7 linked regions of the Homo sapiens genome follow. The protein of the gene in region 3 purifies or fractionates together with the protein of the main gene of each other region. This does not show direct contact. Each region holds a gene or a part of one and is shown on either strand. Other genes may lie near its edges. The genes, in order: PUM3, CAPG, RPF1, ZBTB11, PDLIM2, ZNF324 and RPF2.

Region 1 (3,844 bases), on a different chromosome or scaffold from region 3:
ACTTACAAAATCCAAATTCCATCTGGTATTTAAACCACTGGAGAGATTTTTTTCCCCTACTGAGTTAAAACAGTTTGGGCTTTTCATTACAATGTCTGGAAAAAAGTGACAGATCATGAATTCATGTCTTGCGGCAAGTGGCAGCTCTGATGGCTAGTGTGGCAATCAGTATAGCAGTAGAGCTGTCACTTCTCACCTTACCTTTAAGAATGGGGACCTGGGGCTATTTTTCACTAAATTTTTTTGTAAAAGAGAAGCCTTGTGATAAATATTAAAGAAAAAAATAACATATGGAATAATCTTTTTCATTATTAAAAAGTTGATGTATAGTTGAGTTTATGCCAGAAAAGTAGTCTGGCTTAATGTCCAGTGGTTTTTCTCCCTCTTAATTAAAATGTGCTGAGAACCCTAAAATCTGCCAGTTTGGGTCTGATGTGTTTGTCTTGTCGTATTCAGCACCAAATGAGTTTGTCCTCCTGCACGTCTAGCTGTTTTGATTCTCTTTTACTGGATAGTAGCCACCTTAAAACTTAGTAGTTTTCAAAACAATGACTTGATCAGGGTCTGGTGGAGCCTGCCCCTCTATGCTCAGAGTCAGAGTCATCTAGGGCTGCTCGGTTTGTGGTTGGAGTGTCCACTTTTCGCTTAGCTCACTCACATGGCTGGCAAGTGAGTACTGACTGTTGGCTGGGGACCAACAGCCTCAGTTTCCCTTTCTAGGCTGCTTGGGCTCCTTCACGAGATGGTGGTTGCTTTTTTAAGAGTGAGCATCCCAAGAGGACAAAGTAAATGCGTGGCACTTCCATGATTTATCCTTAGCAGTCATTTAATGCCACTTTCATCATACTGTCTTGGTCAAGTCAATCACAGAGGCCCACTGTGATTCAAAAGAAGACATGGATTCCCCCTATAGATGGGGGAGTGGCTGCATTCTAGAAGAGCACACAGGACAGGAGATATTATTGTGGTCAGCTTTGGAAAACAATTTGCCTCACTAGCTGAACTCTGTCCCTCTTTAGCAGGTACCATGAAAGGCTGAATAGCCATAGGCCTCTTGGCTTTTAAAGAGTCCTTACATTCAGGTATCTTTGAATGAATTATATAGTACATGCTACCTGACTATGATGTTTGCCTTCAAGATAGGTTGTCCCTACCTCCATCTGCACTAAATCTTAGCTATCAGAATTTCTCCTTTGTCCAAGCATTAATTGCAAAGTGAAAAAGATAATACCACGACCTTGGGAATCAAATACTAGAATAACGGGAGAAAAATGGTATTTTTGATTTGTGAGTATGTAAGCGTTGTAAAGAGAAATGCCAAGTTTAAGCTAGAACAGTCATTTATCAACCACTGTTGAACACGTGAACACTGTGTTATGTTCATGGCACCTTGTGAGTGAGCATTTCTCCATGAGGAAGAACTTGATTTCAACCAAGCATGAGGTGCTACTGTGAAACATTTATTTCCTGAATAGCTTTCAGGTCAAAGTTAAATCATTAAATAATACAAAGAAGTGCAGACATAACCAAGTGAGTGTTTTATTAGAATTCATAGTTTATCTTGAGTAATTACTGCTAAACATAGCTTAGGTTTTGGATCAGAGTTAAAAGAAATGGCTCTTTTAGAAATGCATTAGATAAACCTGCACTGGAATTTTTTGTGTTAAAAGGGAGATTGGGTGAAAGCTACTTTTGTTAGCTTTTTTGTTTAAAAATATTTGCAGATTTAAGGGCAGTAGAGAAGGGGGTAGGGAGTATATATCTTATTATGTGATGTTCACTAAGCTTCAGTATATTTTACAGGTTGTTTTGCAAAAACACTTGTAGAGCATGTTGGTATGAAGAACCTGAAGTCCTGGGCTAGTGTAAATCGAGGTGCCATTATTCTTTCTAGGTATGTATAACATGTGCCCTTCTCTGAGCAGGGCCTGGTCATGCAAAAGACACACTTCCTTCACGTTGATTTCTCAGTTCTAATATTTGTTCTCAGTAGTCTAATATTACTCCCAGTCACTCATGGTCTAGACAAACATACCAAATATTAGAAAGCAAATGTAACTCTTTCAGTCAGTCCTTAGGAATCTTTTTTTTTTTTTTTTTTTTTTTTGAGATGGAGTCTCACTGTCACCCAGGCTGGAGTGCAGTGTCACGATCTCAGCTCACTGCAGCCTCAACCTCCTGGGCTCAAGTTTTCCTCCCATCTCAGCCTCCTGTGTAGCTGAGACTACAGACGCATGCCACCACACCCAACTAATTTTTATTTTTTTATTTTTTGTAGAGATGGGGGTCTCCCTGTGTTGGCCAGGCTGATCTCAGACTCTTAGGCTCAAGTAGTCCTCCCATCTTGACCTCCGAAAGTGCTGGGATTACAGGCATAGCCATTGTGCTTGGCCCTTAGGATTTTTAAACTACCATCTTTTTGACAAATTATAACATTCACAAGGTATCAGGTGGCTTCACCACATTTATGGTTTTGACCAAAACATAATTTTTTTTTTTTGAGATGGAGTCTCACACTGTCGCCCAGGCTGGAGTGCAGTGGTGCGATCTCAGCTCACTGCAAGCTCTGCCTCCTGGGTTCATGCCATTCTCCTGCCTCAGCCTCCTGAGTAGCTGGAACGGCAGGTGCCCGCCACCACGCCCAGCTAATTTTTTTTATTTTTAGTAGAGACCTGGTTTCACCGTGTTAGCCAGGATGGTCTCGATCTCCTGACCTCGTGATCTGCCCACCTCGGGCTCCCAAAGTGCTGGGATTACAGGCATGAGCCACTGTGCCCAGCCTGTATTTTTTTTAATGAATAACTTACATCCCTGTGAAAACTGTGACAATGTTGACTTTTAAATCATGCCTAATTCTACATGTAATTTCCTTCATTGTTTTAAAAGATTGTAAAAGGATTGGAAGAGCATTTGCTACTGAAGTGTGTGTGCTATTTGTTGATATCTGACTTAAAATGAGAAAAAAACAGTGATGAGCTATGGCCTCTTTTGTATTATTCTCTGAACTTAGTTGAGTTTATAATCAATCCACAAATCATTGAAATTTTCCATACATTCTCTGTGCAGATGAAAACCTTCTGTTAAGAGCATTCATTTAAAAAAAGATTTGTATGTTGCTTTGAAGCAATTACTGTTGATTTTTCCCCTGCTGTGTTATTAAGGTTTGGGAAAACAGATACCAACCCTAGTTTGAATTTCTCAAGATACTTTACTTGCAACATGCTATGCAACTTAATCTATGTTGTTTGTAAATGTTATTTTAAGTGTTTCTTCAACATATACGTGATCTGGTACACATAATACTCACACAGGAGCATTCATAGCTTCAGGTATGTCAGTGTCTCCAAATATATAAGTGTTACAGATCATTTTGTTCATTTCTGCTTAAAATTAGTTAATTTTCCAGTTGATGTTAAACAGTCAGAATTCGTTAGCTGATACATGAACTTTTTCATTACAAATTTTTTTACCAGGCATTTGGAGTGTTAACACCTACTGACACATTCTTTCATTACACTCAATTAACTGGAAATTTCAGCAATGCCATGAAATTAATTTATAAAGGTTGTTCATCAATCAGAACTCCCATTAGGTGGATTTCAAACATAGGAAGGATACTATAGGTTTATTATGGAGCACTACTCAGAATTGGAACAGGAGCAGAGGAAATATTTGAAGTTCTAAATGGAAGTTGAGCTATATATAACAATAATACAAAAAAATTGTTTTTGTAAATTTTGGGTGAAAAGAAAATCAGCCTTGTATGTTGGCTGAAAAGTAACTCAGAGAAGCAGAATTCTCTAACATTTGGGAGCATTGGCACTTGACAGACTGCCTGGGTTCT
Region 2 (3,401 bases), on a different chromosome or scaffold from region 3:
GTTCTGCCCCACTCCAGACCTAGTGAATCAGAATCTATGGGGGTGGAGCCCAGCCATCTAAACAGGCCGTGGGGTGATTCTGAGGCTTGCTGTAGTTTCAGAGCCATTGTCTAGAATTTAGGAGGTGGGAACAGCAAAGAGAAAATGGCGAGGCAGTGGCTCACATCTGTAATCCCAGCACTTTGGGAGGCCGAGGCCGGTGCATCACTTGAGGTCAGAAGTTCGAGACCAGCCTGGTAGTGAAACCCCATCTCTACTAAAAATACAAAAATTAGCCAGGTGTGGTGGCACGCACCTGTACTCCCAGCTACTCGGGAGGCTAAGGCAGGAGAATTGCTTGAACCCAGGAGGCAGAGGTTGCAGTGAGCCAAGATCGTGCCACTGCACTCCAGCCTGGGTAACAGAGCAAGATTCCTTCTCAAAAAGAAAGAAAGAAAGAAAGAAAGAAAATAGCAAGGCCTATGCCATGGCTCACGCCTGTAATCCCAGCACTTTGGGAGGCCAAGGTGAAGATCACTGGAGGCTGAGAGTTTGATACCATCCTGGGCAACATAGAAAGAACCCATCTCTATCTTTTAAAAAAAATTTTTAAAGAGAGAAAATGGTCAGCCAGAAGCATGCAGGCTTCCTGAGGCTGTCTTTTACAAGCAGCTAGACAGGCTGAGTCCTGCAAAGGGAAGCCTGCCCGGGTCAGAGCAGCTACAGGCATCTCAGGCTGTTACAGAGGAGCCACGTACCCTTCCAGATATAGATCTTGCCACAGAGCCCGTTGTCCAGCACAAAGCAGTCATCAGATATCAGCAGTTCAAGGGCAAATGGGCTGGAGTCAGCCACCTTGGTCAGGTTCATCTGTCCAGTGGCATCAGAGACCTGGGGAGGAGGGACAGTGCCTGATCTCACCCCCCACACACCAGCCCTCACCTCAGCCTGAGGAGGGGGAGGCTGGTCCTCCCTAGGTCCCTCCCACTGTGCCTCGCTGCCCACTGCCCAGGTCCCAGGAGCAGACAAGAGAGTGAAGACCTGAAAAGCAAATTCCAGGCAGCCCCACTCCCTCTCATCACCCCAATCCCTGCAGCACAGGGGCCCCGAACCCATTTGGAAATTAGGTGGATTCCAAATTACAAAGAAATGCACAGAATTCAAGAAAGAAAAGCTCAGCATTGGCTTCAAGCCTTCACCAAGCATAGGCTGGAAGTGAGGTGCACTCATCTCCTCAGGAGGGCCTGCCTTCCGCCCACTCCCCATCCTTGTCTCACTCCCAGCCCTGTATAACTCCCCACCTCCCACCTCGGTTCCAGCCCCACCTTCCCCCTGCCTTCTCCCCTCCACCCTGCTTGCATGCAGCTGTGCTGTGCAGGCTCCCACCCTCCCTGCTGCCGGGTCCCAGGGCAGGCTTGGGGGGCCCACCTTATACAGAGCTGCGGCCTGGGCATTTGCCTTGTCAGCTGTGAGGTCTTCCTCAGGGTTGCCCTCCTTCAGAGCAGGCTTGGGGCCCAGGACCTGCAGGGGCCAGGGCAGGCCAGGTTTATAGGGACCCCTGCCCTGGAACTTCCCAGCCCATCATGCCCAGGGCCACTGCTTCTGGTGGGGCAAACTGCGCCCTGCACTAGGGCACCCAGCAGAGGTGAGGTGAGTGAGGGCTGAGTCCAGCCCACCCCACCAGCCAGGCTGCTCAGCCTCGAGGACGAGCATCTACCCAGAGGGGCACCCTGTGAGCTGGCCACAGCCCTAGGCAGTACACCAGATGGCCCCTGCCACCCTCCACCGGCCACTCTCAGCCCTCAGCTCATCACCACCTCTCTTGGCCACTTTCAAGCAGAGGCTCCCAGCCACCCACTCCAATGTCCCCCAACCTGGATCATCTCAGCAGGCTCCTCCCCATCAGTGACAATCTCCACCTGGGCCTTGCCCTGTCGCTCACTGTCCCGGATGGCCAGGGCCAGGTCCCTCGCCTTGTTGCGTTCCAGGATGTTGGACTTTCCACCACACCAGGCGAAGATGTTCTGCAAGGAAGCAGGAAAGTCCGGGTCAGAGCCAGATGCCTGTGTCCTGCTCCCCAGCTCAGAGAAGGGCGCACAGCTCTCCCTCTCTCCTCTCTGAACTGTCCCTGAGGCAGGACAACCAGGAAGGCAGAGCACAGCACAGAGGGCTCTCTGAAAATGCCCACGACCACCCACTGCAACTGTTTCTCTGCCCACCTGCCATCTGTCTTCCTTTCTTTTTTTCGAGACAGGGTCTCACTCTGTCATCCAGGCTGGAGTGCAAAGACGTGATCATGGCTCACTGCAGCCTTGACGTCATGGGCTCAAGCAATCGTTGCACCTTAGCTTCTAAGCAGCTGAGACTATAAGCACTTGCCACCATGCCTGGCTAATTTCTTAATTTTTTGTAGAAATGGGGTCCCACTATGTTGCCCAGGCTGGTTACAAACCGCTGGGCTCAAGCCTCTTTCTTTTTCTTTTTTTTTTTTTTTTTTGAGATGGAGTTTCGCTCTTGTTGCCCAGGCTGGAGTGCAATGGTACAATCTCAGCTCACCGCAACCTCCACCTCCTGGGTTCAAGAGATCCTCCTGCATCAGCCTGCCGAGTAGCTGGGATTACAGGCATGTGCCACCAGGCCCGGCTAATTTTATATTTTTAGTAGAGATGGGGTTTCTCCATGTTGGTCAGGCTGGTCTCGAACTCCCGACCTCAGGTGATCTGCCCACCTCGGCCTCCCAAAGTGCTGGGATTACAGGCGTGAGCAGCCACGCCCAGCACCTCTTTATTTTTCTTCCCATCACATATCTCCTATGTTTAAACGTCTCTTAACCACCTATCTCCACCTACTAGAAAGTGAGCTTCATTAGGACATGAAGGTTTTGTTTGGCTTTGCTCACCACTGTGGGCCCACTGCTAAAACAGAGCCCGGCATGGATTTAGGCGCAAAATAAATATTGACTGACTGAGTGAAGGACTGGATGGGTGAATGGCTGAATGGCTCCTTGAGCGCAGCATCTCACACTTCTACCCACCGCCCTGCCAGGCAGAGCCCCTGTCACCTCTCCTTTTCTGGTAATGGCGAGGTCTGTTCACCTGTCCCCTTCCTTGTCTCAGCACGTGTAGTCCTCACCAAGAGCTCCTGGATTGATCTCCCTGCCCCAAATCTTCAGCGCCACAAGACGCAGCCCATACTCCTCAGCCAGCCAATCTCCTCATGACCTAGGGCTCACCTTCCACCTTGCTTAGGAATTTCCCTCCCCCTGCTCCTGTCCCCCAGCCCGGGTCCCAGTCTCACTAGACCCCTGGTGTGTGCATGTCTGCACCCTTCCCCACCTTGGTGGCTCAGCTCACCTTCTCCCTTTGCCTGGAGTGGCATCTCCCCTCCTATAGGTCTAGTCCAATGTCACCTTCCTGGGACAA
Region 3 (3,844 bases):
TACATAGGTAAACGTGCTATAGTGGTTTGCTGCACAGATCATTTCATCACCTAGGTATTAAGCCCAGCATCCATTAGCTATTCCTGATGCTCTCTCTCCTCCCACCCTCTTATCCCATACTTTAAAAATGACTTAGTCTTTTTAAACAATAAGCACATACCTTATGGACCCATTCATACTCTCCATATTTAGAATCAAAGGTTCCTTTCTGAAGAGACCTTAATTTTAAGGTAAAACGTGGTCCAAGTTCCTGAATTCCCACTTTCTTTTCACTCCTGAATATGTATCTTCAAAGACAAAAAGAGTTAAATTAGTCTGAATGAGCTATTGTTTAACATTATGACAGGGTTCAAAAGATAATTCATTTTATCTTGTATGATACTTGCTACAATATGTTGGAAAATTAGTTCATGTTGAAAATATATTTCATAATTGAAATCAAAGTTCAATGAGTTTACCTTCCTCACCTGTGAAATCTGAAGAATATGTAATCCCGTTGATTGTGGAATGTGGCAACCTGCCTTCCGATAAATTGAGGATTATGAGGAAAGAGAGATGCAAACATACGTCCAATTGAATGACCCAGCCGTGTTGTAAAATTATTCAGAATTATTTCAGGTATGTGTTCTGTGGGGTCCTTGCCTCTTCTCTAGAAAAATAATGAAAAATAAATATCACAATGGGCTAAGCTAATTGGCAATACGTCCCAATGCAATTTCAAGTATCAAAATTTACATGACAAATTTGCAAAATGTATTTTTTAGTGACAAACTACCACAGATGGCTTATCAAACCCATGAAATAAGATGTATCTAAAATTATTTTAATATGCACTGAATGCAACAACAAAAAAATCCTATTAGAAAATCAACGTGCTTCATAGTAATGAAGACTATTGCCTGCCGGCTGTAACTTAACCACAGTCTCCCAAGAGAATTGATAGATTAAAAACTGCTCTAATCAGGAGAACAAATGCCATTATTAAAATAAATTAGAGCTATAAGATACAGCATCTATTGATCAAATAAATATTGTGAAGAGATCAATGCCAATCAAAGAAATGTATAAAACTTACCTTAATTTCTTTACGAAGACGAACACTGCTCATTTTAAAATGAGCAGTTGGGCCATTTGGCAAGTGACTCAAAATAAGTCCATCTGTTCATAAAAGTTAAGAAAAACACATTGAACTCTGTAATCTAAATCTAATTGTTTAAATAACTGGTCCTCTACATCCAAAGGCCCCTAAAATCTGTACCCAAGTGAATAGGCAGATGTACATATTCCTCTGAAGTGACATTTTCCTACCATATCAAAAGCTCAAAATCAGTCAAAATCTTTCAAGAATATAGACTAACCTAGAGTAGTCCTTTTTTTCTCTTTTTACAATATAATAGTTAATCACGCTCAATAGGGTATCTTAAGGTACCCTAAACTAAAGTAGGTGAAAAAAAGCTATTTAATTGACCACTACTCTTAGGAGTAAAATAGGATGTGATTCTATAATCATGTAACACTGCAAATAGAGTATGAGTTTACCTCCACGTTCTAAAGATGTATAACCCCAAAATGTCACTTTTATACATTTGTATGGTCACGATATGCTGTCAACTTTGAATAACATCCCATGAGACCAGACTCCTAAACTTTCCTCTATGAAATTAAGGTTATTAGTATTTTGCAAGAGATCACCCCTTACTTAGGATTACTGTACCCCAAATTATAATCAACAAACCAATTAATAGCCATTCACTGACTGTCATTTCCCATGAACTGAGAATTATGCTAGACATGCTAAACTACAAATGAAATGTGAGATCACCTACCTACAACCAGCAGGACTAGCAGCCCAAGGACTCTAGAAGTCCTGGGTGCTGCAAACTAAGGTTGCTACCTATATAATATTCTTCAAGTTTGTGGCACAATCTGACCTTCACTTGAAACACCTTTACTTTTCATGAGTAATTCTTGGCTATTGCTTAATGGCATTACAAGCAGGCATATTAATGACAATGGACAGGGCTTTCACTTTGTATTATGCTTTTCTAGTTTAGGAGAAATTTTCAAACACATTTCATCTGATTCAACAACTTAAATAGGCCAGAATCAGATGGTTTCAAGTCTATCTGCATTTAATATGTATCTTTCAAAGCAGATGTTGCCATCTTTTTACAATGGCATCAACACTCATTCCTCCAGATTAGAAGCTATGGTATCTTCAGCTTCTCCCTCTCCCACCAAATCTTAACTGCTTTTACCTTCAGAAGTTCTCACTTAGCATCCTCTTTACCCTTACTGTCTTAGTGAGGTCCTCAAGATTTTCCACCTAGATTATTAAGGTAGTATTGTGGTTGGTCTGACCTTTTTCTCACCATCTCAAGTACATCTCCTAATGCAGATTGTAAAATCAAGTCTGGACTTAGGCCTTGGTTCTATAAGTAACCAGCTATGGGACTCAGCTGTTTCATTATATCTGTACCATAGTTTCTCACATGCTAAGTGAAAAACAAACTAGATACCTTCACAGTCTTGACAGCTGTAGCTAATTTCATACTACTCTCATCACAGACTCATCTACAGAAAAAAGACATTAGTATCAGACTCATAATGTGGCCACAAATTACCTTTTCAACCTATTTACCCTATGCCCACATCAAGCCTGTTTCCTAACTGGTAGGTACTCACAGTCTTATGTACTATATATGTGAATCCTAGCATGCATTTTTTGCTTCTGCTATTTTGAATACCTGCAACGTTTTACTCATCTATTATGGTCTACTTCAAATGTCACCTTTTTATGTAGTCAGAATTAAGATCTAAATCTTCTCAGTTCTGCTACCACAGCACTCATCACTTTTTGAGTTAGGAAAACACCTTTCTTCCCAACTAATCTGTTAAAACTTAGGTAGGGATGGGAATTTTTTTCTTTTGTTTTTTTTTTTTGAGACGGTCTCACTCAGCAGCCCAGGCTGAAGTGCAATGGCACGACCATGGGTCACTGCAGCCTCAACCTCTCGGGCTCAAGCAATCCTCCCACCTCAACCTCCCAAGTAAATGGGACTACAGGCATCATGCCCAGCTAATTTTTGTAGAGAAAGGGTTTTGCCATGTTGCCCAGGCTGGTCTCAAGCGATCCACCTGCCTTAGCCTCCCAAAGTGCTGGGACTGCAGGCAGATCTTTTTTTTTTTTTTTTTTTTGATAGTAGTGCCTACCATGCATCAGATTATCAGCAAACGTTTGAATTCTATCATTTTAAAAGATTCACCACAGGCTAAACTTCATGAAATACAGCCAAAAGTATTTATTAAGGGGTCTAGGAGATATAAAAGTCATTTCTTCCAACGCCCAAATCAAGGCTTAAATCCTTTCTAGAACATTCCCACTAAATTGTGGTCTGTGTCAAAAGCCAAGTACAAAACCCAAACTTACCAGTTTCTAAATAACTTCTTTTCCCATGTACCTGCATTGTGCAAGAGGCTTTATTTACATTACTGCTAATCCCTAACACAAATCACATAAAACAGGAGTCATCATGCCTATTTCAGTAATGAGGAAAAGAGGCTGAAGAGGGTCAAGTAAATTAGCCTAAGTAAATCAGACTAAGGCAACTGCAGATCTCAACCACGGTGGGACTGCACCTAGCTTAAGCCCCCTGCTGACAGCTGCTCACATTTGGAAATGTACAGAGGCATTTTGTTTGTCAGTATGACTGAGGTGTTACTGGCATTTAGAATCCAAAGGCCAGGAATGCAAACCATCTTGGAAGCTGCCAAGAGTGTAGCACAAATAATTACCCTACCTCAAATAACAGTAGTTCCCCATTTAGAAATAATGAATAGAGGA
Region 4 (3,844 bases), on a different chromosome or scaffold from region 3:
GGATTGTGGAAAAGGAAAAAAAAATAATTAGTTCTTCATCACAGTTTGAAAAGCACTGTTCTAGTTGGTGTAGCAGGAAATGGTATATTGTTCTTGATTAAACTTCCATGTCTCTTAATATAAGGTATACTGTTTACCAGTCTCAAAGATAGCATGAGGTTTGTCTGATTTTTACTATTTTGAGAATCTCTGGTGATCACATGGATTTAAGAAAGATAACAATATTTGTTGAATACTGAATCAGAAGAGGGGTCAACTTTCAAGTTGGTTTCAACTTTCACTTTGTCATTATGTTTTATTGTAAATTAAATAATTTAAATATTTATTTAAAATAATATATTCATTTTCTCTGTCTTCATTGTTCAGAAACAATCTCCCTTTTTGTTTTATTGACTTAATCACCCCTGTTCTATCTTAGGTCTGTGGAAAGACTTTTATCTATAAGCATGGTCTAAAATTACATCAGAGTCTTCATCAATCACAGAAGCAGTTCCAGTGTGAACTGTGTGTTAAGTCATTTGTTACCAAACGGAGTCTTCAAGAACATATGAGTATTCACACAGGTAATGAGAAATTTATATTGACATAGTTACATTTCATAAACTATTAATGATTATGCTTTAATTATACCAGAAATTATATTGATAAACTGATAGTCGTGTGTGCTCAATTTTGTATTGAGACAGTATTTTAAATTAAAAGTGCAGGCTGGGCGCGGTGGCTCACGCCTGTAATCCCCAGCACTTTGGGAGGCCGAGGCAGGCAGATCATGAGGTCAGGAGATTGAGACCATCCTGGCTAACACGGTGAAACCGTTTCTCTACTAAAAAGACAAAACATTAGCCGGGCATGGTGGCAGGCGCCTGTAGTCCTAGCTGCTCGGGAGGCTGAGGCAGGAGAATGGCGTGAACCCGGGAGGCGGAGGTTGCTGTGAGCCAAGATCGCGCCACTGCACTCCAGCCTGGGCGACAGAGCAAGAATCCGTCTCAAAAAAAAAAAAAAGCGTTTTCTCAGATCTGGTTTTACAGCTATGTTTGTGTATGGAATATTCATTGTTTCCCTCAGTGTAGAAAAATGTGTACTAAGTGTTAAAATCATGCATAATTTAAATCCAGTCATAAAGAAATGATCATGCTTTTAAAAAGTTAAATGGTAGGGAGACATAATGTCAACATAGTAGTTGGCTTATATTTTTTTGTCCATACATACTTATTTTTAGATGTTTTAAAGCAAAAATGTGGGAATAGCCAATGAAGGGTAGATACCTGCTGCAACTTGTATTCAACTCTAGTACTATTACAATCCATAGATCATACAACCGTATCACATGACTAGGGTCATACCCTCTGATAGTACTATGGTTGTTGACAGGAAATGGGGATTTTGACATGGGTTATTGTTAATCTTAGATGTCTGCCAAATGTTATAGCTTCCATGTCCCCTTGGTAAAGTAACTTCTGAAATATGACATGAAGAATTCTGTTTATTAAAGGCCAGGCGTGGTGGCTCATGCCTGTAATCCCAGCACTTTGAGAGGCCAAGGCGGGTAGATCACAAGGTCATGACATCGAGACGCTCCTGGCTAACATGGTGAAACCCGTCTCTACTAAAAATACAAAAAATTAGCTGGGTGTGGTGGCACGTGCCTATAGTCCCAGCTACTCGGGAAGCTGAGGCAGGAGAATCACTTGAACCTGGGAGGTGGAGTTTGCGATGAGCCGAGATCACGCCACTGCACTCCATCCAACCTGGGCAACAGAGTGAGATGCCACTCAAAAAAAAAAAATTCTGTTAAAAGAGGACTGATTGCTGGATATGTGACAGGGTTTTAATTTTTTCTAATAGGAGAGTCCAAGTACCTTTGCTCAGTTTGTGGAAAGTCTTTTCATAGGGGCTCTGGACTCAGCAAGCACTTCAAGAAACACCAACCAAAGCCTGAGGTTCGAGGCTATCATTGTACTCAGTAAGTATTCAATATGTGAGGCATTCAGTTAATTTAATTATGTTTTTACTCAGTTTTCAAAAAAATATTTGAAGATAATATTAAACTGTAACTTCAGTTTACTCTTGATTTTAATGTCCTTTTTTTCTTGCTTAAGGGTTACTATTTTTAACATCTTCGAGATGTAAATCATTTACCATACAAATCACTCATTTAAAGTGATTTCAGATTTTCAAATGTACTACCTGGAAGTGGGGACTGTGGGAAAGAAGAGTCTCACTGCCAGCCAGTTTCTTTCCCCCCCTCTTCTTCATTTTCCAGATCCTCCTAAAATAAAATCTCTGTTACAATCGAGGTAAAATTCATATAACGTAAAATTAATCGGGACAGGCACAACAGCTCAAGCCTGTAATCCCAGCAGTTTGGGAGGCCAAGGCGGGCAGATCATCTGAAGTCAGAAGTTCGAGACCAGCCTGGCCAACGTGGCAAAACCCCATCTCTACTAAGAATACCAAAATCAGCCGGTTGTGGTGGTTCACACCTGTAGTCCCAGCTACTTGGGAGGCTGAGGCAGGAGAATCACTTGAACCCTGGAGGTGGGAGGTTGCAGTGAGCCAAGATCACACCACTGCACTCCATCCTGGGTGACAGAGTGAGTCTCCGCCTCAAAAAAAAAAAAAAGTCATTTTAGGGTGGTAGTGTGGGCGCAGTGGCTCATGCCTGTAATTCCAGCACTTTTGGAGACAGGTGGGAGGATCGCTTAAGGCCAGGAGTTCAAAACTAGTCTGGGCAGGCAGCATAGCAAGACCCTGTCTCTTAGGAAACAAAAGCCAGGAAGCTCTCTCTTTTGCTTTTCTTTTAACTTTTAGGTTCAGGGGTACATCAGAAAGCTCTCTTACAGGGATTCGACAATTTTTTTTCTTTGTTAAACATTTGCCTAGTCACTATAAGCTTTTCATTAGTTTTTAGAGTTCCTGGTAAGGTTGATTCTAACAGTTTGCCAGTTTGTCCTCTACTTTCGTGGAGAGATGGGCTTTTGGAGCTTCCTACTTGATGTATTTGTTGATGTTACTCTAATTAGTCTTATTTTGAAACAAAGATAGTTTGTTATCAATACATTTTTAGTTATTAATGAAAGTACACCCAACCCAAACAGGCTTGAATTAAATATAAAGTCTAGGAGTCTGGGTGGTTTAATGTAAACTGGATTCAAATTCATTAGCACTTGTTTTCTCTGAGGCACCATATGGACAAGACAATGGCAGTGGTTTCAGTCTCATATCCTCTCAAATTCCAAATTGTCAAACTTCTTTTCTGGTAGTTCCATCAAAGCCCTGAGAGTTACTCCATTTACATCAAGTTAAGTCAGTCATCCCTGAGTCAATCACTATGGCCAAGGGAATGCTTTGTTGTGATTAATTTAGGCCCAAGTCATTTGCTCTATCCCTAGGGTCAAAGGTAAAGTCTACCCTCAACACATGGACTAAGAATGAGAGGGTTGAAATAGGGATCTCAAAGTGGGGTAATTTAGGAGAGAGAATAGTAAATTTCCTCTGTAATAACCTTTGGGAACTATGCACGATTCTTTCTAAAACATTTCTAGTAGTCTTAAGATGAAAAGAACCTAAAACCCTGTAGCCTTTATGTAAGATTAGAAAATTAGGGAATTCTTTTAAGTTGAGATCATCTTTTGGAGTTCTAAAAAACTAAAAATAGTTACTGAGTTCTTGGAAACTTGTTTTAAAGGAATAAGATTATCCAATTGGGTAACTGAACTTTATTGCAGATGTGAAAAAAGTTTCTTTGAAGCTAGAGATCTTCGCCAGCACATGAACAAACATCTTGGTGTGAAGCCATTCCAGTGCCAATTTTGTGATAAGTGCTATAGTTGGAAGAAAGATT
Region 5 (4,405 bases), on a different chromosome or scaffold from region 3:
TTTTTGTATTTTCAGTAGAGACGGGGTTTCGCCGTATTGGCCAGGCTGGTCTTGAACTCCTGACCTCAGGTGATCCGCCCGACTCGGCCTCCCAAAATGCTGAAATTACAGGTGTGAGCCACTGCGCCCGGCCTGATTACTGATTTCATAGAAATAATCCTTTATATTTTAACCCATGGAGAAACTGAAACCCAGAGAGGGAAAGTGAGCTGCCTCAAGTTCTAGAGCCCACGGTGACTGGGCCAGCTGTGCACCCTGCCCACTGGAGGCCAGGGTGCCTTTGAGCGCGTCACTCCTGATCCCTTTCTCAGGGGTCTCCCCAGTTAAACAAAGGGCGAGACCCGCCTGCCTCCTTCCAGACAAGTAGGCCCAGCTCCCCACCAGCGAGAGGGGCACGCCCTCCCAGCTCCCTGGGTACCCTCTTCCAAAGTGGAACCCAGCTGGAGCCCTGAATGGGAGGTAACTGAAGTCTGGGCTGAGGGACAGCCTGCCTCGTCCCATCTTGCCACACATTCCTGGCCGTGAGGCTGCCTCTAGAGATGTAGGGCAACAGGACCCTCCGCTTCCTGGGAGAGCCATGGGATCAGGGTGAGGAGAGCTCAGTCTCTGGCTCCAGCCTGGAGCCCTGCTTCCTGCCCCAGGGCTTCTGAATACCAGAGAGGTCACCTGGGAGGGTAGGAGGCGGGAGATGGGGGCGGGGGGGGGGGTGGGCATCACGTCAGCAAAAGTAAGGAGACTGGGCCGGGCGCGGTGTAATACCTGTAATCCCAGCACTTTGGGAGGCTGAGGCAAGTGGATCACGAGGTCAGGAGATCGAGACCATCCTGGCCAACGTGGTGAAACCCCATCTCTACTAAAAATACAAAAATTAGCTGGGCGTGGTGGCACGCGCCTGTAGTCCCAGGTACTCAGGAGGCTGAGTCAGGAGACTCTCTTGAACCCGGGAGGCAGAGGTGGCAGTGAGCCGAGATCACGCTACTGCACTCCAGCCTGGCAACAGAGCGAGACTCTGTCTCAAAAAAAAAAAAAAAAAAAAAATTAAGAGACTGGAGTCTGGGCTTGCCTGGTGCAGAACCAGAGGCCTGACTTACAGCCCAGGCCTACCTCCCCCGAGCCCTGGTCCCTCCAGAGAACCCCAGAGGAAGAGACAGTCCGAGGCTCCTGCCCTTCCGCTGCCAGACCCTCAGCCTCCTGTAGCTTTCTGCCCCATTCCCAGATGCCATGAGGTGCTCTCTACCCTCCTTCTTGGGGTCCCGCTCCTGCAAACACCCAGGGACCTGAATGACATGAAGGGAGCCGGCTTCTGCCACACCACAGGGCAGGGCAGTTGGAGAAGGAGGGGCTTGGTAGGGCTGAAGAGAGCAGGACAATGTGGGGGTGGCCAGGATGCAAGAGGTGTCTGACTCAGGTTCTAGGCCCGTGCAGAGGGCTCTCCTGGCTCGGGGATCTCCTGGCATTCCCGATCTGTGACTCACTGCAATGCCCCACCCCAGGGAGCCACCTGTTCCCCCTATAGCTTGGCCTCCAGGCCCCACCCTGGCCCCACCTTGGCTTATAGGCTCAAAACCCTAGGAGTAACCCAGGATCGGGCATCTGCCTTCAGTGATGGGGAGGAACAGACAGCCTCTATGAGGAATGAGCCCCCCAAGTCCTCACTTCCAGCTGGGAACTAAACAAAGGCCATGCCCTGTTGGAAGCAGGAGTCCTGGGGATGCAGCCTCGGGCATACCTTTCCCAGAAGGTTCCCCTCTTCAACCCACTTCATGCCCACGCCCTGTGCCCTGCACACTCTTGGGAACCAGTCAAACCCGGGCTTCAAGGTGGCTGGTGCCAGCTCGCCCTGCCCAGCCTGTGACTGCACGCCCAGCCTGGCGCCCACCTTTACCCAACCAGGCATGGGAACACCCCTCAGCCCACCCTGCTGCAGGAAGCAGAGCCCAGGACCTTCTCACCAAGGTGTGGAGAGGGCCCAAGAAGGCCGCTTTAGGGCTGAGCTCTAGCCCATGGGCAGGAGCAAGGGCTGCTCAATACGTGGGGTGGTGGAGGAGGGGGAATGCCACAGGCTCTGCAGAGCGGGAGGCCCTACCGGTCCAGCTGCAGCCGCAGGGGCGAGGGGCTCTGGCGGATCTTGCTCTGGGCCTCGGCATGCAGCATGCCCTCCGCGCTTTCCCCGTTGATGGCCACGATTATGTCTCCAGGCCGGAGGTCAGCGTCCTTGGCTTTGCCCCGCTCGGCCACCTGTAGGGATGAGGAGCTGGCATGCTCAGACCGTGGCCCAGCTGGAGAAGGGACTTCCCACTCTGCTACCCAAGAAACACAGAGGCTGGCTTGACCCAGGCCGGCCTGCACCCTCCTGCATGTCCCTCTGCCTGCTCATGACACCCAGCTGATCAGCCATCCCCTCCAGGAGCGCAGGTGGCAGCCCCCACCCCACACTGGCATTCTAATGGGCCTCCCAAAGAATGTGCAGTGGCAGAATTTCAGGAACTGTGCTTGGAAATACTTTTGGATAGAGAGCCTTGCCCGTGCAAATCGCACCTTGCAGGTGGCTGCCTGCACAGCCCTCCTGTGAATGTTCCCAGCCTGGGCCCAGGTCAAGAGGAGACTGCCAAGAACTCCGGGGCTCTTGTTCTAGTAATCACCCCAAATGGCTGCCTGCAAGTGTGGGGATAGCAACTGGGGAGGCAAGAGCCGGCCCTGTCCTGGTCCCAGCTCCCTTTCACTCCCAAGGTCTGTTCCTGAAGTGGCCACCACATCCCCGTGGCAAAGGGCCACGGCTCCCTTACAGCCAGCACGCCAGGCAGCAGCAGATCCCTAGCTCCAGAACAGAAAAAGCAAGCCATCTGTGCAGAGTGGGGTGAACAGGGCCGACCTCGCTTCTGGCAGGACCTTCTCATCTCTTTGAGCCACCATCCTTACCTTAGTCACCATGATGGGCGTGTGGAAATCCCTGCCCCCTGTGATACGGAAGCCCCAGGGCGCTGGCCCGGCCACATCCACCGTCAACGCCATACCTGAGGAAGAGAGGACCAGGAGGTGAAGTCCATGCCCCTAGCCGGCTCTGGGGGCACTGTAAGGCAGCAGGAGAGGAGCCAAAGGGAGAAGGAGAGGGCACCACAGCTCCCGGAGCAGCTACTCAGGGGCTTTGGGGTGGGTAGAGGAAGTGGCTAACTCCCTCCCTCAGCCCGGTTTCACTTCCCCCCACCCTGGGAAGCCATGCTTCTGGGTTCTCCCTTCCTTAGTCTTCAGCCCAGGGAGCGACTCCCAGGAGGGGGCTGCCCAGGCTGCCAGGCAGGGGGCTTGCTGGAGCATGGGGGGCAGGGGCTGGCAAGTGGAGGGGATGCCAGCACCCCCTCAGTCTCCCCTCCTCCACCATCAGGGCTCAGTCCCACTAGCGCTTGCTTCCTGTCCCCAAAACCCACAGCACACGGTACTTCCTCTCCACTCTGGGGGAGGGCTGGTGAGTGGCCTAGGGAGAGCAGGGCTCAGGAAGCAGGAGTGACGGGTCAAGGAACAGGCTGGCACCAGTACAGACTGTGTAAGTCACTGGCCAGGTGAAGGACTGGTGGGGTGAGGCCGAGTCTTCACATGGGCCTCCTAGCTGCCCACCTCGTTCTTGGCAAAGTGGATCACACGGGCAAGACCGGGCTCCCCACCTCCCCCAGGGGCCGGCTGCCAGGGCAAGGAGGCCAGGGTTCATCTGTCAAGCTGGACACACCCACCCCCAGATTCCTGATGCTGCCCGACAGACAGCCGGGGTGACAGGCCTCCCATCCACAGCCCCTCCGCTGGGCAAGGAAGTGCCCTTGCAGACAGACCCCTGTGGGATTTCCTGAGCCTCTAGCTCTGGAGCCAGGAGCCAATCCAGGCAGGAAGCCGCGGTGCCAGGCTGGGCACCACCCTGCCCAGCACCCATCCTGGGGCTGCCCTGGGGACGCAAGTGCTGCGAGAATCTATCAAGAGCACCAGCGGTCTGTCCGCTCCATCCCCGGCTGCCTTCCCCTTGGGCCCAGGCCTAGCCTCTGTTCCCAGCACCGCCCCCACCCCAGTCCCCGAGGCCGGCTCGCGGCCGCCCCGAGATTCCCAGACCTTTGAGCCGGTCAGTGGACTCCGCGCTGCGGGCGCCGCGGGGAGGTGCCCAGCCCGATGGCCCGGCTCTACCAGTTCTGGAGCCTCCTTCGCTCCGAGGGCAAAGTACCCTGCGGGCTGGGGGCTGGAGGAGGAGCGCTCCGGCCGGGGAGAGCGCAGCTCGCGGGGGCGCCCCCGCTGATGCGAGGCTCCAGGGAGCTGGGCCGCGGACGAGGCCAGGGTTCCGCGCCGACAGGGGCGCGGAGAGGAGCCCGGCGCCGGGGAGGGCGGGCCGCGCGGAGAGGCGCAGGTGGGCGCGCTCACCTGGCTGCCGCTC
Region 6 (4,448 bases), on a different chromosome or scaffold from region 3:
CCTTGGAGCTCCACCTTCAAGGGCAGCTAAGGCTGCAGCCTCCAGGAGGGGCTGATGATGGAAGGGAAGGGAATCGGGTGGGAGGGAGGGGAGGAGGGTGCTTCTGGGGAGTCTGGGAACCAGGGACAGAGGCATGACCACAGGTTGGTCCTGAATTCACCCCACCCTGAGCTCCCTCTCACCAGGGTTGCGCCTCCTGTAGGTGGTCCTGGACAGGGTTGTGTCCGTTCCACTGGGAACCCAGGGCTCCTCGCCACGCTCCAGTTGGATGACCACACGAGGTCGAGAGGTGGAGAGTCCTGTGAGGAGGAGGTGCAGGTTAGAGTCCAGCCCCAGCTCAAGATAACCCACCTCCAAACAGAGGGCAGGAGTCAGGGCTTCACGGAAACAGAAAATGTCATCTGTGCAACTGCAGAATCTAAAGATGGCACAGGGCAAGGGGCTCACAGGAATAGCTCATTCATCCCCAGGGCAGCAACTGTGCCCAGGGCACCAAAGGAAGGGGACTGAGCCAAGGCTCGGAGAGGCCACAGCCGGACAGCGCCACAGGGAGTGGTTGAGCCAACCAGACTGCATGTCTATAGGACCAGACCCCTATTCCACATGGCTCCTGGCTGCAAGGTATAGGCCTGCTCGTCAGCCACCAGGGAGGTGAGGGGGCAGCCCTGGCCAGTCAGCTTGTTATCAGTTGCCCATTTCATGGAGTATCTAGGACCTTACCCAGCGAGGCCACAAGTGCGAAGTTGTCTAGCATCACGCGGCGGTACAGGGCCCTCTGGGCTGTGTCCAGGAGCCCCCACTCCTCCTGGGAGAAGTACACAGCCACATCCTCAAAGGCCATCTGGTCCTAAAAGAGCAGGGAGGAAGAGACAGCCATGGTCTAAGGCTGGGTTATCCAATCTTTTGGCTTCCCTGGGCCACATTGGAAGAAGAATTGTCTTGGGCAACACATAAAATACATTAACACTAATAACAGCTGATGAGCTAAAAAAAATAAAAATTGCATAAACATCTCATGTTTTAAGAAAGTTCACGAACTTGTTTTGGGCTGCATTCAAAGCCATCCTGGGCAGTGGGTTGGACAAGCTTAGTTTAAGGTATGGCTGTGAGCCAGGACCAAGCTCCCCATCCCAACAGCCACCTTCCATGATGTCCCTCAGACACTCACCCTCCTTCCCTGGGTTCTGCCCCCACCATCTTCAGATGGCACTTCCCTCACATGTCTGGGACCCCTCCCCTCTGCCCTCCCTGACCAGACCCCAGATGCCTTCTTGGCCTCCCCACTGGCAACGCCATACACAAGCAAGCTAGAACAAGTCCTGGCTGGGCCCTCAGCTGCCACACCAAGAGCAGCCCCAGGTGTCCACTCGTGACTCAGCATGACCACTCATGACCCTCCCCAGATGCACCCTTCCTGCTCTTGTAGCAAGAAACTGTGAGTCCCAGCAGGGGCTTCCCAGGCATACCCATCACTGGGACCCTCCCCTGCTGAGCCTGCTTGCCTGACATTTCCAGGCTGCTCATCCAGCCTGAGGGACTGGATGATTCTCACCAGTCGCCACAGGGGAGCAGCCTCAACAACCTGTGAACACAGAGGAACTCAATCCCTTCCTCCTTTCACCCGGTGTCCCCTTTCTTCCCCTCTCTGTTGCCACCCTCCCCTCCTCAGTTAGGTGCTAGGCTCTTCCCAATAGCCCCAGGCATCCCAGCTGGTCTTCTTTACCCTCAAGCCATAACTGCCCACACCTGGCTGAGTCCCTGCCCATTCCTCAGTCCAATTCATAGGCCCTGTCCACAGCCCAGGACGCCAACAACGTCAGGTCCAGTGACATGACCAACCTGGGACATCCCAGACTCTTGATCTTTCCCCTGAAGGAAACCTGCTTTCCTTTCAATTCTCCTTTCTATCTACAGCAGCTCTCTTCTTCCAGGCGCTCAGGCTGAACAACATGGGGTACTTAGTTCTTCAAACAGCCCACACCTGATGCATCCGCAGATCCACCAGAATTCACCTGGTCGCCCACCTCCACTGCTGCCCAGACTGTGGCAGTCGGTTCTTCCCTTCATGCCGACACCCCTGCATGTCTGTTCTCCACGCAACAAACGGTGGAACCGTTTTAAAGTCCTCAGAGGATGTCCTGATTCTGTTCAAAACTTCTATGTCTCCCGACGCCCTCGAGATAAAGCCCACTCCCTCGCCTGATACTGCAGCCGCACACATCCCCTCTACTCCAGCTCCACATCGAGAGAGCTCAGTCCCAGAAGCACCTGGGCTTCGGCTCCCCTCCCAGGTTTTGCACACGCAGGACTCTCCCCTCGGAGCCTCCTTCGGGACCTCAGCCCCCTGGCTGCCCGAACTCGGGAGCTCACCAGTGCCCTGGACGCAGGAGTTTGCACTGACCCCCGCAACCCCCCCAGGGCAGGGAGAGGAAAGACGACTAGGCGAGGTCTAGGAAGCGGCCTCCCTCCGTGAGGGCGCGGTCTGTGTGAGCAGGGACTCCCCTGCTTCCCCGACGCGGGCTTGTCAGCGCCACCGCCGCCAGCGGAACCCGCAGCTGGGAGGGAAGAAAGGCGTGGACCACCCAGCCTTTCCCCGCCAGCAGCGTCCCGGGGCCGCCCCGCGCCTCAGTCTCCCCGGCCATCATGGACGTGGAACGCCCAGCGCGCAGCCTCCTGGGCTGCCGCACGGTGGGAGAGCGCATGGCTCCCGCCGCGGCCCGACAGTCCCCTGGACGCCCACGACGCACTCTGAGAAACAGAGGCTTGGGGGCGCGGCCGGCGGCCGGCGCCCTTGATCACGACGCGTGCGCAGGGCGGGCCCGACGCGGGCCCTCAGCCAGTACCTTCCTCGCCGCCAGCCTCGAGCACCAGGAACCCCCTGGAAACCGGACCCGACCCGCGGTCCCCAGCCCAGACCACCGGTGTGGCCTGACGCGGGCGGCGAAGTGACAGTCCCACCGCCGGAAGTCCAGCCCTTCGGTTCTCATTGGCCCAGTGCGCGCCGCGGACGCTTGCGTACAGCCTTCCGGGTCACGTGGTTCCCGCCTGTTTCCCTGCGTGGAGGCGGGGCCACTACCGGTCTCCTTGGCAACGTCCAAGCCCCTGCCGCGCGGGGCGCTGGGAAATGGAGTCGCGCGGCGGCCTCGGGTTTTCAAGGGCTTGGTGGCGCTGGTGGATTCGCCCGGTGTGTAGTCCTGCCTTCGGCATTCCAGGTGTCCTCCCAAGCAGTCCCGGAGACTAAACCCTGCAGGTGCGAAAGCAGAAACTGCCGAGGTTCCAAGAGGCAACACCAGCAGTGAGCACGGAGGAGAAAATGCACCGGGTAGCGCAGGTGGAGGTGGAGGAGCCGATGCCTGGAGCTCCGGGTTCCCTTCCCAGCTCTGCCTCTCACTGACTGTGCGTCCTGGGCGCGGGTTTGACCTCTCTGTGTCAATGTCCCGTAAAGGTTTAAGGTCCGTTTTCAACCTTTACACCAAGAATTCTCAGCCCGTAAGCCTACATTTGTCTTAAGTATGAGACTGTTCCTCGACACTTGCCCAAAGCATCTGTTTTCCTTGTAATTTGGATGGGCAGAAGTTAATTCCCCAGATTTGCTTGTCCTTAGACCATCTAGATCTTGTCTTGCCCCACACATCACAATATTCATTCTTTTTTCCTTTTTTCTTGGGACTCATTTAAGTTTTTTTTTTTTTTTTTTAACAGGGTCTTTGTTCTGTTGCCCGTGCTGGAGTGCAGTGGCACAATCTCGGCTCACTGCAACCTCTGCCTTCAGGTTCAAGTGATCCCCCCGCCTCAGCCTCCGTAGTAGCTGGGACCACAGGTGTGCGCCACCATGCCTGGCTAATTTTTGTATTTTTTAGTAGAGATGGAGTTTCACCATGTTGGCCAGGCTGGTCTTGAACTCCTGACCTCAGGTGATCCGCCCACCTCGTTCTCCCAAAGTGCTGGGATTACAGGCCAATTTAAGTGTCTTTGACACATAAAAACGAAAGGCAGAGCAGTCTCAATGTAGACTGTCTTGTTTGGCAGATAATAAAAGGTTCTTTGTCTTGTTTTTGGAACCTGTAGACAGTTCTCAGCTGTCCAGTTCCTTAACTCTTTTTGCCTCCCTCCCTCTATACCTACCTCCATCTATAACTATCTCTCTGTCAACTGTCAGCTATAACTGTCCACCTAATTGATTCTACTTGTAAATCCTTGTAGAGCAAGGGAGCTCATCATGTTTGGAATGTTTTAATATAAATTTTGCTACTTTGAAAGAATTTAAGAACATTTCAGGACTGGGCGCAGTGGCTCACACCTGGAATCTGAGCACTTTGGGTGGCCAAGGTGAGCGATCACTGGAGCCTAGGAGTTTGAGACCAGCCTGAGCAACAAAATGTGACCCCATCTTTATAAAAAAATATAAAAATTAGCTGAGCATGGTCTTGCATGCCTGTAATACCAGC
Region 7 (3,844 bases), on a different chromosome or scaffold from region 3:
TTTTTGTATTTTTTGTAGAGACAGAGTTTCGCCATGTTCGCTAAGCTGGTCTCAAGCTCCTGGCCTCAGGTGATCCACTCATCTTGGCCTCCCAAAGTGCTGGGATTACAGGCATGAGCCACCGTGCCCAGCCATGCTTTTATTTATACAGTATTATTATACTTTAGGTTATCAAGTTCATAAAGTTATTTATCATACTTCTTGGTCAAAATCCTAACAGTGTATATACCACTTGCATGACGTCTTTCCCAACTAGAAATGATCTTTCTCTCCTCAGAACTTCCAGAATGGTTTATACTGTTCTCCTTTTAATGTGCTACTTTAAATTGCAGTTGTTTGTATGTATTCATATCTACCTAGAATGCAGGGCCCCTGATAGAAAAATGCTATATGTCATTTATCACTTTGCATAATAGGTGCTCTGGTACAATTTATTAAGTGAATGGATTCTTGCCAATGGTATTCATGTGTAAACAATACTCTGTTGTGTTCTAGCCAGAAAATATCATGCTGTTAGACATATTTGCTTTCCGGTTACTAAGTACTACCATTTATGCCCTCCCGTTTTCATTCATTACTTGTTTGTGTTACCTTGATGATTTGCAAACTTTAGTGAAATTTCAGTTTGGCAGTTAAGAGAAAATGTTGTAATAAAAGGATGGCTGGTTAGAACTATTGGATACAGACTGAAAATCCTTTTATATTCATAGTCTTAGAAATTTTGACTTAATAAAGAGTACTTTTCCATGTGCTTATTGTGTTCCTAAAGTTTTCTCCCAAAGCACAGATGTCCTGAAAATTTTGCATTATGAAAGTTGTTTCAGAGCAGACTGGAATGTACATATTTCGTTTCCCAGAAGTACTCTGACTTCAGTAATGCCACACCAATGAGTGAGCTTTATTAACTTGGCCACTGAAGGAGAGTCAGGCTTTGGCAAAATCATGGGAAAGCTCTTTATTATGATATTTAGATTAAAATATCTTGAAAAGTACAAACTTGTTTTATAAAAATGTCCCAGGCCAGGCGTGGTGGCTCAAACCTGTAATCCCAGCACTTTGAGAGACCAAGGCAGGAGGAGTGCTTGAGTCTAGGAGTTCGAAACCAGCCTGGGCAACATAGTGAGACCCCATCCGTACATAATATATGTATAAATATATGTAGTATATGTACTTTTTTTAAATTAAAAATGTTCATTAGTTTTTTTTTTTTCTTGTTTGGGGGAGTAGAGGAGGGTGGTGTATAAATGTGCCTGCCCACTTGTGTTTGTTTTATACAAGTTAATGCTGTGTTTTTTGTTTTTTGGGTTTTTTTTTTTTTGAGACTGAGTCTCACACTGTCGCCCAGGCTGGAGTACAGTGGCGCAATCTCGGCTCACTGCAATCTCCGCCTCCCAGGTTCAAGTGATTCTCCTGCCTCAGCCTCCCAAGTAGCTAGGGAGGCACTTGCCACCACACCTGGCTAATTTTTTGTGGTTTTAGTAGAGATAGGGTTTCACTGTGTTAGCCCCTATGGTCTTGATCTCCTGACCTCATGATCTGCTCGCCTCGGCCTCCCAAAGTGCTGGGATTACAGGCATGAGCCACTGCACCTGGCCTGTGATTTTCTTTTGGTTAAGCACAAGAAAGGAAAAGCAGACAACAAAAGATGCGTTCATCTGTGCACATGGAGATAATCTGCATCTTATGGGCTAATGGGAAGCAGGAAGGAAAATGCTAGGTGGCTACAGAATGGGACTAGAACAGAATTTCCCACTTACTACATCACCTGCCTTGGGCAGCTCTTCCTAAGCAAACTTGGATAAACTTTTATATAGACCTTTTATCTTAGCCAAATGTTATTCATGAATTTCCATTTAGCCTCCTTGAGGTTCGATTTTCTCAGCTGTAAAATTAAGATATCACACTTGTTTTCCAAACTTCTTTCATAGCCAAGTCTGTGTAGTATCCTTAGCGTGCAGTTCACTGGAGATTTTCTTTTAATTGACTCCTCTTTTTAAGTTATTGTTTGAGACAGGGTTTTGCTCTGTCGTTCTCACTGAGTCCAGTGGTGGGATCAGCAATCCTCCCACCTTAGCCTCTCCAGTAGCTGGGACTACAACCTGGCTAATTTTTTATACTTTTAGTGGAGATGAGGTTTCACCATGTTGCCCAGCCTGGCCTCAAACTCCTGAGCTTAAGCAATTCGCCCGCCTCAGTCTCCCAAAGTGCTGGGATGACAGGCATGAGCCACTGTGCATGGCTGACTACTCTTTTTAAAAGGAAATTTTATGTCCCTATTGTAAATGGAGAATGGTACAGGATAAAATAAATACGTAGTAAATTATATCTGGCTTTGTATCATTAAAATGCTCTCATGTGCCACCGGTGGTATGATTACCACTTTGTGAGAAAAAAGACTATCACTGATATGCAAGGTTCTTTTCTGGCATTAACAGTTTATAAAGTTTCTTATCCTTTGTTCATATAATCAAGATTTCTTATTAGAGTTTTTTTCTTGTTGGCCTCCCTCATAGAAAAAAAAATTAAGGCTAATTTGATTTTAATAGTCAATTTGAACAGCCATTTTTATAGAAATTTGCTATCTTCATCTACCAGTAGATTAAAATTTTATGCTTTGATTTACATTTTTTAAAAGTTAGTATTTTTAATGGATATGATTTTTTGATGCTGAGCTGACTCAGAGGAAGAACTTCAAAACAGAAACATTAAATGTCTCAGTGAACTGAACACCAAAATACCAAAATAAAGTCATGAGATTAAATGCTTAAGGGGTGGGACCTTCAGACATTTTTCAGGAATCATTTTTTGTGCTTTTTTAGATAAGTATTGGAGCAAAACTGTTTAGAGTGCAGTTCTTTGTAACTGAATTTTGCAAGTATTTGTTTTGTTTTGTTAATAATTTAATATGTGCTTTTAGATTTCTTCAGAGGCCCCACAGTATCAAATATCCGCCTGGCTGGATTAGAGTATGTTCTGCACTTCACTGCACTGAATGGGAAGATTTACTTTCGAAGCTATAAGTAAGTGCATTTCTTCACATATTTTCTTAATCCTCAGGGTTAGTGTTTAAAACTGTGTGACTGTTTTTTAGAGCCCAAACTTAGAATTGGTATCTGGCCAAAAGGTTTCTTGGAGAGTTGGCAGGATAGCAGTGACAGCAGCTCTGTGCTGATCCTCAGTCCTTTGCCTCTGAAACCCTACTTTTCCAGTGCCCCAGAGCATCTGATGCTGCACTGTCGCTGAGCCAGGTGCACCAACCCTTCCTAGCTTTATGCAGCATCTCTTTATTGTTCTTGGTTGGATTTACAGCACTAAGCCACAAATCCTTGGCTAGGCAAAGCAAATCTCAAAACCCTAAGTCTTAACAATTGAGTCTAAAAGGAATAAGAAGATTCAGTGGCTAGATTCATTTCACTCTGTCTCTCTAGCCTAGGCCTTCTACCCCTACCACAATATAAATATAAATCTTAAGCAGGCCGAGCATGGTGGCTCACACCTGTAATCTCAGCACTTTGGGAGGCTGAGGCAGGCAGATCACTTGAGGCCAGGAGTTCAAAACCAGCCTGGCCAACATGACGAAACCCCATCTCTACTAAAAAAAACCAGAAAAATTAGCCCAGCGTGGTGGCACATGCCTGTAGTTCCAGCTGCTCAGAAGGCTGAGGCACAAAAATCGCTTGAACCTGGGAGGTGGAAGTTGCAGTGAGCCATGATTGTGCCACTGCACTCCAGCCTGGGCAACAGAGTGAGGGCGCTGAAAAAACAAAAAACAAAAAACTCTTAAGCAGATTCTATGTTTATTAAAGAGTTAATGACATGCTGTAATTGTGGTTCTTTTTTTTTT

The links.
Region 1: the proteins of RPF1 (region 3) and PUM3 fractionate together in Homo sapiens (co-fractionation; one large-scale study listed by BioGRID). This does not show direct contact.
Region 2: the proteins of RPF1 (region 3) and CAPG purify together in Homo sapiens (co-immunoprecipitation; one large-scale study listed by IntAct). This does not show direct contact.
Region 4: the proteins of RPF1 (region 3) and ZBTB11 purify together in Homo sapiens (affinity purification with mass spectrometry; 2 studies listed by BioGRID and IntAct, with this or other methods). This does not show direct contact.
Region 5: the proteins of RPF1 (region 3) and PDLIM2 purify together in Homo sapiens (co-immunoprecipitation; one large-scale study listed by IntAct). This does not show direct contact.
Region 6: the proteins of RPF1 (region 3) and ZNF324 purify together in Homo sapiens (affinity purification with mass spectrometry; 2 studies listed by BioGRID and IntAct, with this or other methods). This does not show direct contact.
Region 7: the proteins of RPF1 (region 3) and RPF2 fractionate together in Homo sapiens (co-fractionation; one large-scale study listed by BioGRID). This does not show direct contact.

What each region holds. Positions count from the first base shown.
Region 1 is NC_000009.12:2,805,864-2,809,707, reverse strand, and holds part of PUM3 (pumilio homolog 3), read left to right. Parts: intron 1-1,803; coding exon 1,804-1,894; intron 1,895-3,844. UniProt on the Homo sapiens protein: Inhibits the poly(ADP-ribosyl)ation activity of PARP1 and the degradation of PARP1 by CASP3 following genotoxic stress. Binds to double-stranded RNA or DNA without sequence specificity. Involved in development of the eye and of primordial germ cells.
Region 2 is NC_000002.12:85,397,283-85,400,683, forward strand, and holds part of CAPG (macrophage-capping protein), read right to left. Parts: intron 2,004-3,401; coding exon 1,854-2,003; intron 1,501-1,853; coding exon 1,408-1,500; intron 871-1,407; coding exon 738-870; intron 1-737. UniProt on the Homo sapiens protein: Calcium-sensitive protein which reversibly blocks the barbed ends of actin filaments but does not sever preformed actin filaments. May play an important role in macrophage function.
Region 3 is NC_000001.11:84,492,687-84,496,530, reverse strand, and holds part of RPF1 (ribosome production factor 1), read right to left. Parts: intron 1,159-3,844; coding exon 1,076-1,158; intron 650-1,075; coding exon 468-649; intron 288-467; coding exon 161-287; intron 1-160.
Region 4 is NC_000003.12:101,652,823-101,656,666, reverse strand, and holds part of ZBTB11 (zinc finger and BTB domain-containing protein 11), read left to right. Parts: intron 1-418; coding exon 419-563; intron 564-1,845; coding exon 1,846-1,963; intron 1,964-3,728; coding exon 3,729-3,844. UniProt on the Homo sapiens protein: May be involved in transcriptional regulation.
Region 5 is NC_000008.11:22,579,212-22,583,616, reverse strand, and holds the start of PDLIM2 (PDZ and LIM domain protein 2), read right to left. Parts: upstream 3,143-4,405; 5' UTR 3,015-3,142; coding exon of another isoform or gene 3,013-3,014; coding exon 2,920-3,012; intron 2,239-2,919; coding exon 2,087-2,238; intron 1-2,086. UniProt on the Homo sapiens protein: Probable adapter protein located at the actin cytoskeleton that promotes cell attachment. Necessary for the migratory capacity of epithelial cells. Overexpression enhances cell adhesion to collagen and fibronectin and suppresses anchorage independent growth.
Region 6 is NC_000019.10:58,465,579-58,470,026, reverse strand, and holds the start of ZNF324 (zinc finger protein 324A), read right to left. Parts: upstream 2,948-4,448; 5' UTR 2,844-2,947; exon of another isoform or gene 1,849-2,843; coding exon of another isoform or gene 1,840-1,848; intron 848-1,839; coding exon of another isoform or gene 842-847; coding exon 721-841; intron 300-720; coding exon 183-299; intron 1-182. UniProt on the Homo sapiens protein: May be involved in transcriptional regulation. May be involved in regulation of cell proliferation.
Region 7 is NC_000006.12:111,012,837-111,016,680, forward strand, and holds part of RPF2 (ribosome production factor 2 homolog), read left to right. Parts: exon of another isoform or gene 1-752; intron 753-2,917; coding exon 2,918-3,020; intron 3,021-3,844. UniProt on the Homo sapiens protein: Involved in ribosomal large subunit assembly. May regulate the localization of the 5S RNP/5S ribonucleoprotein particle to the nucleolus.